4 separate regions of the Homo sapiens genome follow, and all the other regions are reported to be linked to region 3. Evidence: microRNA targets listed by miRTarBase, many of them from high-throughput screens and not tested one by one. Region 3 holds a microRNA gene; each other region holds the end of a gene's coding sequence.
The links. The annotated mature microRNA hsa-miR-489-3p reads GUGACAUCACAUAUACGGCAGC and lies in region 3 at 998-1,019, shown strand. An mRNA with a match to its seed (bases 2 to 7 or 8) in the 3' UTR can be bound and repressed. Matches are read on the target gene's strand: a 7mer-m8 pairs with bases 2 to 8, a 7mer-A1 pairs with bases 2 to 7 and ends in A, and an 8mer does both.

Region 1 (3,251 bases), not on the chromosome of region 3:
TACTTGGGAGGCTGAGGCAGGAGAATCACTTGAACCCAGGAAGTGCAGGTTGCAGTGAGCTGAGATTGCACCACTGCACTCCAGCCTGGGTGACAGAGTGAGACTCTCTCAAAAAAAAAAAAAAAAAAAAAAAAAGGGTAACATGTAGTTGGATTGATTTTGGGGGTAATATATACTAGCAACAAATAAAAAACATGGTTGTCTGAATTCTGCTATTCTTTTCTTGGGGTATTGAATTTGGTAAGATTGTGTGTAGACACAGCTTGAATTTCCCTGCATTTAGAATTATCACGTTTTAAATAAATAAGGCTTTCCTCCCTCCTAAATTATAAATACATTATGTAGCTGTATCCCCGGCTCCCTCCATCCCTGGAGAGAGAGAAAATGTTAATCAGTTTTTTCCTTTTTGTTTATGTCATTGACAAGATTCTATTTTTTAGTAAATCTTGAAGGGTGGCCATTTAAATGGTCTCTTTCAATAGCTGAACTATAATTGTGCCATATTTAGAAGGGAAATTTTTAAGCTGGAGTTGTGGGTGAAATTAAAAACAAAAAACAAAACATGTCAAGGCAAATGAAGTATTTCATCAAAAGAGAAGTATATGTTGGTTTCCTCTTCTCATTCGACAGCAGACATGAAGGAGACACAGATAGATGGCTTGTTGGTTTTGCTTTACCTCTCTAGTTGCCTGCCTGTTACAGACCTAGACAAGGTGCTGAGATTTGATGCTAAGGAGTTATGTTTTGTGTCAAGATGGTTCAGTTTTGTTCTTTGGCATTTTTAATGAATCTCAATAAAACAACTTATCATTAGGATAACATTTAATTTCATAGTTCTAAGTAGGGGTGGTAATTAACTTACAGTATCCAATTCTTTACCTAATGGCATAAGGGGCATCCACTTAGATAAGTTACAGTCCAACTGAATTCAGAGAGAATTTTTCTGGGAATCAAGTGATTCACTGGGGTACCACTAATACGACTTCATTTTTTTTTTGACTTTGACTTCTACAGCTCTGGTTAAGTGATTTGGACAAATAGAAATTTAAAATTTTGTATTTGTAAGCTCAGGTCTAGTTTTTAATCTGTCCCTGTTAGAGAGCAAAATCTATATTATAAAATTTCCAGCTAAATGCAGTAGCAAGAAAGAAGGCAGAATGCTTTGGAGGCTATTCTTAGTTCCATAAATTGATTAATACCAATAGATCAAAAGTCTTGTCGTCCACCAGAACACTGGCTTTTTTCTATACAGTTCCACCAATTCCACCATTTCTCAGTTGCACCTGCTGTTTTGTTGACGTCCAAGTCATAAAATTTCTGGGATTGGCAATAAGTTAATTTGATAACTTTTTAGGATAGTTATAAGTACTGAATAGCTCATTTGAATAATAATGTTGTTTTTTTAAACTTTATTTGTATTTGTAAAGTATTTAAAAGAGGTTTTTGGTGCCAGATGCATAAAGCAAATATAAGTCAATTAATCTAAGGATAGTTCTTTATTTAGTGACCTTTTACTAAAAAGCATTACTTTGAACAAATTTTCTAATTTAGTTACCCTCCCTGTTAAATTTAGTTTTCTAGTGTAAAAATGGGGTACTACTTTGGAAAGATCCTCAGGTTTTCTCAGCTAGGAACAGATTATGGAACCATGTCTATCTCTCTACTTAAGTGACATTTATGGATCCTGAAAAGGAGTGTGCCATCTGGATGTACACGTGTACTGCATCGACCTCTCTGCCATGATATTAATTGCTTCCCTGAAGCTACATTCTTTCTTGCCAGTTCTGAAAACTCATATTTCAAATGCTTCAAGAGTCATAAATAATAGTCATGATTCTATGTGGCATGTGTATTACAGCTAGATCAGTTCATACGTATAACTTTTCATAGTATCTTGTGTAAAAATAGCTTTGGTTATTAAAATCATTGCAATAAAATACCTGCACTATAATATTAAGTGTGTTCTTTGGTACCTAGGTGATTTTTTTAATGGATGGACTCATGTTTCATTTCTTAAAAAATATCTGAACATTCCTTAACAAACAAAGAGAATGCACTGGTTTAGGTGTCATTCAAATTTTCTTTGCTGGGTTTGAATCTGCATTTAGGTTGCGGGCCTGGCAGGTTCAAACGTTAGGCTAGACGAGCAAAATCACACTCCTAATCCAATGAACTCAGACAACCCCATACCATGTTGGTTGCACTCCTATAGAACAACCATTTCTGAAGACCAGCTCTGCCTAAGTCTGTAACCACTGGTGGTGGTAGTACTGAGACACCATACACCTTCGTGGCATGGTAGAACAGATGAGAAAGTTCGATCTTAAAAGATGTCCGCTCAATGGCTCAAAATCACTATGCTCCAAACCACTAAACAGCCAAGCACAGCGAGGATGGTCATGGATTGAAGGTGTGAGATCCAGTGGTGTTTTCCTGCTCATCATTTGTCTTGCCAAGTCGCCGCCCTGCTGAAGTGTGTGTCTCCAAACAAAGTCAGAATGCAGGTGAGCTAAGTCTTTGGTTTCTTTGGACTATAAATAACGCTTTTTTTTCTTCAAATATTTCTAAGTATAAACCTGCTATCTTGAGGTCCTGGTCTTTTAAAAATTTTTTTTAATTTAAAGCTTTTCCACCGAGGTTTTAGTTTGTGGTTCTTCCTTCATGCTTTGGTACAAGTGCTTGATGAAGAAGATGAGTTGCCTGAATTGGAGCTGCCCTCGTCCTGCCACTTGTCCAGACTCCTCCTTCTTGCGTTCATGAAGAAGTTGCTGACAGTGCTCAGCTCCAACCCCAGCTGCTGGGAAATGGTGATTTGCAATTCTTTGGATGGACGCTTATTTTCCTTGAATATTGCATGTAGAGTTCGACGCTGGACATCTGTGAAGACCAACCTGGGCTTTTTGGGTGTGTTGCCTCTATCCTTCCCATGTTCTTGTTCTTTCCTTTTGCATGCTGTGAAGAAACACAGAAGATGTTAGAACAAATGGTCTAGGGGAGAATCATGAGTAGAAAGACAGAGCTCATAAAATTTGTTAGCCATTCCTCATGGCCTGCTTTCTGTTTGCTGACCTCTGCTTTAAGCACCATTGGAGGCTGGGAGGAAAGTGTAATAGCAGAATGGAGAATTGGGATACAGGTGAAGTTCTGTGAGGCCTGGGCATGGGTTGTGGCTTTGATGAGTATTTGCTCTTTGTCCTGGGTAAGTCAGTTAACTCCATCTGGGCTTCAGATTCCTCACCTGTAGAATGTAA
Region 2 (3,251 bases), not on the chromosome of region 3:
GTCTAATAATAAATAAGAAATCAATTTTATAAGGTCCATATAGCTGTATTAAATAATTTTTAAGTTTAAAAGATAAAATACCATCATTTTAAATGTTGGTATTCAAAACCAAAGATATAACCGAAAGGAAAAACAGATGAGACATAAAATGATTTGCAAGATGGGAAATATAGTAGTTTATGAATGTAAATTAAATTCCAGTTATAATAGTGGCTACACACTCTCACTACACACACAGACCCCACAGTCCTATATGCCACAAACACATTTCCATAACTTGAAAATGAGTATTTTGCATATCTCAGTTCAGGATATGTTTTTTACAAGTTAATCCTAAAGTCATAAAGCAAGAAGCTATTCATAGTACAAGATTTTATTTGCTAAGCTTTACAAATTAAACTCTAAAAAATTATTACAATGATACTGAAAGATATTTTATTGGCCTTTTAAAAGACAAACACAAATGAGAATTATCTTATTTAGAAAATTAACTTTGAAAATTATCTTAAATGAAATAAATATAATATCTAATACAATCTCTTCCTGCAAGATCTCTTAAGATGGGCAATCCTAAAAATGCAGCTTCCCATCTGAAAATCCCTAAAACTAGTATGTCCCTTAAAATAAAATTTATTTTTCTTATAAAGGACATTTGGTATTCCCACATTTTCTTAAAATTTGTCCTAAAACAAATTCTATCTTTAACACTCACGTTTCTAAATATATATATGTGTGTGTGTATATATATGTGTATACATATACACATATATATTTAGTTCACTTAATTTAAAATTAGTGAAAGCTATCTGGACACAATTTCTAAGAAAACATTGCAGAAAGTAAGTTATGCATGGTTATTTACAGGAAGAGTTTTCCTAAATAATAATGTAAATATCATGTTCAAAAATCTGACAAATCCTTTCTAATAATCAGCACTGCAGGTTTCAATACACCTTATATAACAAAAGATGTTTCATGTGTAGAACTGCCAGATGAGTCTAAGAGCCAGAAACTAAATCATTTGACATGGTTAAGAATTTCATTTTTATTATACTAAATGTCAGGTCAGAAGTCAATGGCATTTACAAGCTGGAAGACTGTTTATCCACTCAACTCTTTCAATTATATCAAACACTGATTAACCAAATGTGACTGGACTTAACTGCTACAACTTTATGGTTTCTATCAAGTATATGCAAATATCTTAAATGGGCACATATGCATATGTGCAAAACAAATGAAATATAGATACTTAAAGAATGAACAGAAATGGCTTGTAAGCAAAAACCACCCTGCCATTCAATTTCGAAACTCCGTCTTTTCTTCACTAATTTGTCTTCTGTTATTAGTAGTCTTCTATTAAAGTTGTAGGTTTACAGATGATCTGGAAATTTCACATTGGTATAAGAAAGGAATGTCGGGTTGATGCAGTCTGGAGACAAAGAAGGAATTAGTCTTAAAATGTATTAAGTTGTCTTTATCTAAATCATAGTATAATACAACACATTTTATAGAAGAATTATATTAAGTATATAATATTCTCTTCATTAAAGTCTACATATCAGAATACATTCTAAAGTGTAAGGCTTCTATAGCAGATTTTCATCTAGAAAATATTTGCATTGTATTTTAGACTCTTCAAAATGCATAGAAGACAATCACACAAATTAGTAAAACAGCAAAATTACTTTGCCTTTTAATCTTATTATTAATACTGACAAATTCTTAATGCCAGTGTCTGCAAAGATATTTTGCTTGTTAAAATAAAAAAGCGACTTCTTTGGGAGTGGTTGGGGGAGACTTTAGTAGAACACTTAAAATGATACTTTAACATGATCTAGAAATACAAATGTATTCATAGTACTCTAGCAGAAATAAGTAAATTATATAAGCTTATGTATAACTTATATAAATGATAAAATGTAAGCAACCAAATCACAAAGCATGCAGTTTATTTATTTGAAAAAAGAATACTTAATAAACTTGAAACACTTTGTTCCTTATAGTCCTGCATTCAGAAGTTAAGTACTAGTAGACATTTTGGTAATAGAGTTCAAATGCTTTATAAGTTTACCTTATTTATAGGTATAAAGTACATGGTACTTGCTTTAAAAAGTAGAATAGGGAGTATGAGGTTACTTTATGTGAAGATACTCCCGCTGAACAATAAATAAATACTATTACTATACCCACGACCTCCAGAAATTCACTGGATAACCAGTAAGACAACTTCTACTCATTTCTTCATATTCCTACTTATTCAAGTTGTAGCCTTCATAGTTGATAAAAAATCAGCACACATTAAGAAAACAATAACAGAACTATTTTCTTCACATGACTTTTATTCCTTAATCCAGACTGTTAAAAGGACTGCAAGACAAATTGTTTTTCAATCAGATTTTTTTCTCCACCAGATGTCTATGTGAATTTCATATTGTTTTAGACAAAAATGCTCATTCCTTCGGTCTAAGTACTATGTCATATTTTGTTTTTTCAAGCCTTCAAATTTTGTGCTGGTGGTTACTTCATATACATTCTATGGTTAATCTTTAAAGAGAAGTTTTAAAAGTCTGATTCAAAATTTCAGTTCACTCGCTATGTATTTTAAAAATTAAAATTTATGAAATTCAATTTTAAAAATCTAAAAGTTATCTAAAAAGGTCTATGACTTATCAAATTTCAATAAGCTGACTGTTAGCAGTATTAAAAAATATTAAATATGCTAACAGTAAAAATCATGAATACACATTAGGCATTTAATATGTATCTGGCAAATTTGAATACATAAAGGGAATAGGCAGAGTTCACAGATTAATATTTCTTACCTCTACAATAAGAAGAAATACCTTGTTCTATGAGCAGCTGCCATACTTTCAGACATGTTTCTGACTTTTAGATAATTAACAAATCCTCTGAAGAAAAGGAGCAGGCCTGAGAAGGTTGAAATAATATGGATATACTATGTTTTTATACAGAAAAGGGCAAGATAAATTTAAAGTAGACAATTATAAACAAGATCCTCTTGGCTTAAGGAATTTTACTTGCAGACTTCCATTCATTTCTGTAATATATTTTACACTATAAGGATAAACTCTGTCACAAGGAAATACAATTTTTCAATTTGTTAAGCCTAGATGTACCAAAATTAAAGCAAATCTAGCTATAAAAATCCAGAATTACATAAAAATATACATTTAAGTGATTTTCTTCAATAGTAAAGTTACCTGACGCACTTAAACTGATTCAACTCA
Region 3 (3,251 bases):
TTTTAAAGTCTCAGTTTGGGTCACCACCTTCAATTAGCCTCTTTCCATTAACCATAACCACCCACTCAATTCCTCTCCCTCCTGCGAGGTATACAGTAAGCTTAGAGCAGCAGTTGGTATACAGTGAGCTCTCAGAAAAAGATGCCAGTGACGATGCTGATGACAACAAAGCCAATGGTAATAACAAAGACATAAAAATTAGGTTCTTCAGAGCAGGTGTTATTGTTACTTGTTTACTTATCTATGTTCACCTATTTGCTTTGAATTTATGATATATGCAGTTTCGTTGTTTATATAATGTAAGTAGAATTACACAGTACACCAGCCAGGCATCTGATCTTACCTGGGAAAACCAGGGCTAACACTTTTTACAACAGTGTGCTTTGTCCTTTCTTATTTTGAAATGTGTAAGTAACTGAAAAGCAAAAATAATTATATACATTATCAACATTAAGGATGGTGACATGAAAATCTCATTGGTTGCATCAGTTTGTGGATTCTAGGTTTACATACTTTTTAGAGTAGTTTTGCATGTGGCAATCAATAGGAAGCTCTCCCTTCAGCACAGCAGCTTGGGTCCATACACTCAGTGGGCTTGAACTATTGCAGAGATGGACCATTTCTCAAAGTTCCATGAAGAACAGCTCTGTAACTGTCTCTGTACTTCTAGAAACTGCCTGTAACCCAAAAGCAAACTGACTGTCCTACATCACAGTAGGAATTGCATAAGCATATGACCATTTCAAATCAGATTCCTTTCCTGTGGATTCCATGATTAGTGTGGATAAAATCAAGAATGTAAGCTCTATGAGAGCAGGTGGCTTGCCAGTTTGGTTCACTGCTGAATTTCCAGAACCTAGAAGAGTGCCTGACATGTGAGAGGCACTCAAAGTATTTGTCGACTGAAAAAAACTGATGATGTTTGGGCTGCTGACTACTGCTGTTGGTGGCAGCTTGGTGGTCGTATGTGTGACGCCATTTACTTGAACCTTTAGGAGTGACATCACATATACGGCAGCTAAACTGCTACATGGGACAACAATTAAGAGTTTTGTTTGTTTGTATGTTGAAAAATCATGTAAGATGGTTTATATGCAAAGCTTTGAAAACTGATGTTTATTCAGAAAAACAATATGCCCTTAATATCTCATTTCTATCTGAATGTGAACATATAATCATATTTTTATTTAACCCCCTGAAATAAGTAGTATAGACATAACACTTATAATAAGTAGGATATTTGAAGTCTCTTACATTGTTTGGTAGTTTCATCCAATCACTACTGGTTTTATTTTGTCTCTGTATTGCTGAAAATGATACCACCTTCCCAGCAATTCTTATTTGTATAAAATTATCAGCAAAAGTTTAACATTTAATAAACTTTATGAAATTTGTATATGTGTTATTTTTAAGCAGTAGTAATTCCATGATTGTAATTATATATATATAATATACATAAAATCATACATATACATATATTTATATGTTTATATCTATCTATCTGTCTGTCTATCTATCTATCTATCTATCTATCTATCTATCTATCTATCTATCTATACAGTCAGCCCTCTGTATCCATGGGTTGTACATCCATAGATTGAACCAATCTTGGATAGAAAATATTCAGGAAAAAATTGTATTGTAAACATACAGACTATTTTTCTTTTTATTATTTCCTAAATAATACAGTATAACAACTATTTACATCATATTTACATTGTACTAGGTATAAATAATCTGGGGATGATTTAAATAATACAGGAGGATGTACATAGGTTATATGCAAATACTACACCATTTTATATGAAGGACCTAAGCATCCTCAGATTTTGGTATCCACATATGCAAATACTACACCATTTTATATGAAGTACCTAAGCATCCTCAGATTTTGGTATCCACAGGAGGTCCTGCAACCAATCCCCTGAGTATACCAAGGGATGACTGTATGTATAAACGTAATGCCCCAATGGGTATGTTATTTTAGGAAGAAGGCCACTGAGACATTCATCTACTGTTGGGAAAATTCCATCTTCAGTGCTCAAATATGAACCAGACCAGGAACTGATGCAGATTATTACTGCTCATCTGACAACAGAGGTTCTAATTTTTCATTCCTTCAGTGTTGAAACAATCTCTACTGAACCAGCTTCAAACAAGTTCACTGGAGTTTGTTTCAATATTGCAAGAATGATAAGATGGAAGCTACTTTCATCAGCATGAATTATAACTACTCGTATACAGATTGTCGTATTTCCACTGTTACTGATGTTAAAACTGCATTAAAGCAAATAAAAATATAATTGAAAATACAAGCATAGGGTTTTCTACTTGTTATCCTCGGACATACTATTTGCCTATGGTTTCCATGAATTTCCAACTAGAGCAAGAAAATCTCTTGGTTGGTTGTCAGCCATATAAAAAGAGAATTCAGAATGTTACTTTTGGGAAGAAAGCCAGATTTAAACAAAATACTTCCCAGTGTTTAGCATATCTAATACAAGTGACAGATAAGATTTATATATGACATCATGTTCCATCTTCTAATTCGATTTGAAGATGGTGAGAAAATGGTCCAGAAATTAATAATACATCAAATGATCATTCTCATATTAACTGAAGATTTTAGAGCCACAAAAGAAGAATCTAAAATAAATGTATAAGTTGAACCAATAATTAATATCTCTATTGTGAAGGCATCATGATCCATTCTTGTTTTGATGGTTGCCTAATATGTAATTGAATTTTTAAAACACACATATTCATACAAAAGTTGAGTAATAAACTAAAAAAAGAAACCTCAACATGGAATCCCTTCAAATTACTCTTTTTTAAAAATTTTGCAAATCGTGTTCCAATTCCATTAGGAATATCTAAGAATTTTATGACTGATGATTCTTTATTGTTCATAATTTCAAGTATCAGAAATATATTTTATAGTGTTGGTCCATCTTGCCAGACTGTAAGCTCTATGAGAGCACAGTCTACACTTATTTTATTCAGCACTGTATCCTCAGCATCTGGCACAATGTTGGGCTCATCAAGTTTGATCAATATTTGCTGACTGATCTGAAGACCAGTGGGGAAAGTGTCATATATCAAAAGAATTGTGTTCAGCTACACTGGTAAAGGATTTGCACAGTTATAATCATTTTTATGGGTTCATTACTTTCTCTTCTGACATAAATTCAAGAGACATTAAAATTAGAAATCAACAAAATGTTTAAAGAGTAGTGTCAACCTTATTCACA
Region 4 (3,000 bases), not on the chromosome of region 3:
GAAGCCTGCTGGAATGTGATGAAGACACAGTCAGCACAATCAGAGACAGCCTGATGGAGAAAATTGGGCCTAACATGGCCAGCCTCTTCCACATCCTGCAGACAGACCACTGTGCCCAAACACACCCACGAGCTGACTTCAACAGGAGACGCACCAATGAGCCGCAGAAGCTGAAAGTCCTCCTCAGGAACCTCCGAGGTGAGGAGGACTCTCCCTCCCACATCAAACGCACATCCCATGAGAGTGCATAACCAGGGAGAGGTTATTCACAACCTCACCAAACTAGTATCATTTTAGGGGTGTTGACACACCAGTTTTGAGTGTACTGTGCCTGGTTTGATTTTTTTAAAGTAGTTCCTATTTTCTATCCCCCTTAAAGAAAATTGCATGAAACTAGGCTTCTGTAATCAATATCCCAACATTCTGCAATGGCAGCATTCCCACCAACAAAATCCATGTGACCATTCTGCCTCTCCTCAGGAGAAAGTACCCTCTTTTACCAACTTCCTCTGCCATGTTTTTCCCCTGCTCCCCTGAGACCACCCCCAAACACAAAACATTCATGTAACTCTCCAGCCATTGTAATTTGAAGATGTGGATCCCTTTAGAACGGTTGCCCCAGTAGAGTTAGCTGATAAGGAAACTTTATTTAAATGCATGTCTTAAATGCTCATAAAGATGTTAAATGGAATTCGTGTTATGAATCTGTGCTGGCCATGGACGAATATGAATGTCACATTTGAATTCTTGATCTCTAATGAGCTAGTGTCTTATGGTCTTGATCCTCCAATGTCTAATTTTCTTTCCGACACATTTACCAAATTGCTTGAGCCTGGCTGTCCAACCAGACTTTGAGCCTGCATCTTCTTGCATCTAATGAAAAACAAAAAGCTAACATCTTTACGTACTGTAACTGCTCAGAGCTTTAAAAGTATCTTTAACAATTGTCTTAAAACCAGAGAATCTTAAGGTCTAACTGTGGAATATAAATAGCTGAAAACTAATGTACTGTACATAAATTCCAGAGGACTCTGCTTAAACAAAGCAGTATATAATAACTTTATTGCATATAGATTTAGTTTTGTAACTTAGCTTTATTTTTCTTTTCCTGGGAATGGAATAACTATCTCACTTCCAGATATCCACATAAATGCTCCTTGTGGCCTTTTTTATAACTAAGGGGGTAGAAGTAGTTTTAATTCAACATCAAAACTTAAGATGGGCCTGTATGAGACAGGAAAAACCAACAGGTTTATCTGAAGGACCCCAGGTAAGATGTTAATCTCCCAGCCCACCTCAACCCAGAGGCTACTCTTGACTTAGACCTATACTGAAAGATCTCTGTCACATCCAACTGGAAATTCCAGGAACCAAAAAGAGCATCCCTATGGGCTTGGACCACTTACAGTGTGATAAGGCCTACTATACATTAGGAAGTGGCAGTTCTTTACTCGTCCCCTTTCATCGGTGCCTGGTACTCTGGCAAATGATGATGGGGTGGGAGACTTTCCATTAAATCAATCAGGAATGAGTCAATCAGCCTTTAGGTCTTTAGTCCGGGGGACTTGGGGCTGAGAGAGTATAAATAACCCTGGGCTGTCCAGCCTTAATAGACTTCTCTTACATTTTCGTCCTGTAGCACGCTGCCTGCCAAAGTAGTCCTGGCAGCTGGACCATCTCTGTAGGATCGTAAAAAAATAGAAAAAAAGAAAAAAAAAAGAAAGAAAGAGGGAAAAAGAGCTGGTGGTTTGATCATTTCTGCCATGATGTTTACAAGATGGCGACCACCAAAGTCAAACGACTAACCTATCTATGAACAACAGTAGTTTCTCAGGGTCACTGTCCTTGAACCCAACAGTCCCTTATGAGCGTCACTGCCCACCAAAGGTCAATGTCAAGAGAGGAAGAGAGGGAGGAGGGGTAGGACTGCAGGGGCCACTCCAAACTCGCTTAGGTAGAAACTATTGGTGCTTGACTCTCACTAGGCTAAACTCAAGATTTGACCAAATCGAGTGATAGGGATCCTGGTGGGAGGAGAGAGGGCACATCTCCAGAAAAATGAAAAGCAATACAACTTTACCATAAAGCCTTTAAAACCAGTAACGTGCTGCTCAAGGACCAAGAGCAATTGCAGCAGACCCAGCAGCAGCAGCAGCAGCACAAACATTGCTGCCTTTGTCCCCACACAGCCTCTAAGCGTGCTGACATCAGATTGTTAAGGGCATTTTTATACTCAGAACTGTCCCATCCCCAGGTCCCCAAACTTATGGACACTGCCTTAGCCTCTTGGAAATCAGGTAGACCATATTCTAAGTTAGACTCTTCCCCTCCCTCCCACACTTCCCACCCCCAGGCAAGGCTGACTTCTCTGAATCAGAAAAGCTATTAAAGTTTGTGTGTTGTGTCCATTTTGCAAACCCAACTAAGCCAGGACCCCAATGCGACAAGTAGTTCATGAGTATTCCTAGCAAATTTCTCTCTTTCTTCAGTTCAGTAGATTTCCTTTTTTCTTTTCTTTTTTTTTTTTTTTTTTTTTGGCTGTGACCTCTTCAAACCGTGGTACCCCCCCTTTTCTCCCCACGATGATATCTATATATGTATCTACAATACATATATCTACACATACAGAAAGAAGCAGTTCTCACAATGTTGCTAGTTTTTTGCTTCTCTTTCCCCCACCCTACTCCCTCCAATTCCCCCTTAAACTTCCAAAGCTTCGTCTTGTGTTTGCTGCAGAGTGATTCGGGGGCTGACCTAGACCAGTTTGCATGATTCTTCTCTTGTGATTTGGTTGCACTTTAGACATTTTTGTGCCATTATATTTGCATTATGTATTTATAATTTAAATGATATTTAGGTTTTTGGCTGAGTACTGGAATAAACAGTGAGCATATCTGGTATATGTCATTATTTATTGTTAAATTACATTTTTAAGCTCCATGTGCATATAAAGGTTATGAAACATATCATGGTAATGACAGATGCAAGTTATTTTATTTG

Region 1: miRTarBase lists ONECUT1 as a target of hsa-miR-489-3p. The part of its 3' UTR that is shown has no 7-base or 8-base seed match.
Region 2: the mRNA of NDFIP2 is a reported target of hsa-miR-489-3p. Seed matches in the 3' UTR shown: 7mer-A1 at 1,022-1,028.
Region 4: the mRNA of STC1 is a reported target of hsa-miR-489-3p. Seed matches in the 3' UTR shown: 7mer-A1 at 1,892-1,898.

Annotation. Positions count from the first base shown.
Region 1 is chr15:52,754,896-52,758,146 of GRCh38, forward strand. ONECUT1 (one cut homeobox 1) reads right to left here. Exons shown (of 2, transcript NM_004498.4): 2 at 158-2,952. The coding sequence ends at 2,660. Among named protein-coding and RNA genes, the nearest start is that of ONECUT1, 34 kb to the right of the region's middle.
Region 2 is chr13:79,550,697-79,553,947 of GRCh38, reverse strand. NDFIP2 (Nedd4 family interacting protein 2) reads right to left here. Exons shown (of 8, transcript NM_019080.3): 7 at 2,826-2,931; 8 at 1-1,432. The coding sequence ends at 2,828. Among named protein-coding and RNA genes, the nearest start is that of LINC01068, 14 kb to the left of the region's middle.
Region 3 is chr7:93,481,715-93,484,965 of GRCh38, reverse strand. MIR489 (microRNA 489) reads left to right here and starts at 947; the gene lies at 947-1,030. The region is part of intron 3 of CALCR (calcitonin receptor); the gene reads left to right. MIR653 (microRNA 653) reads left to right here and starts at 2,111; the gene lies at 2,111-2,206.
Region 4 is chr8:23,842,021-23,845,020 of GRCh38, reverse strand. It overlaps STC1 (stanniocalcin 1), which reads left to right. Exons shown (of 4, transcript NM_003155.3): 4 at 1-3,000. The coding sequence ends at 251. Among named protein-coding and RNA genes, the nearest start is that of STC1, 11 kb to the left of the region's middle.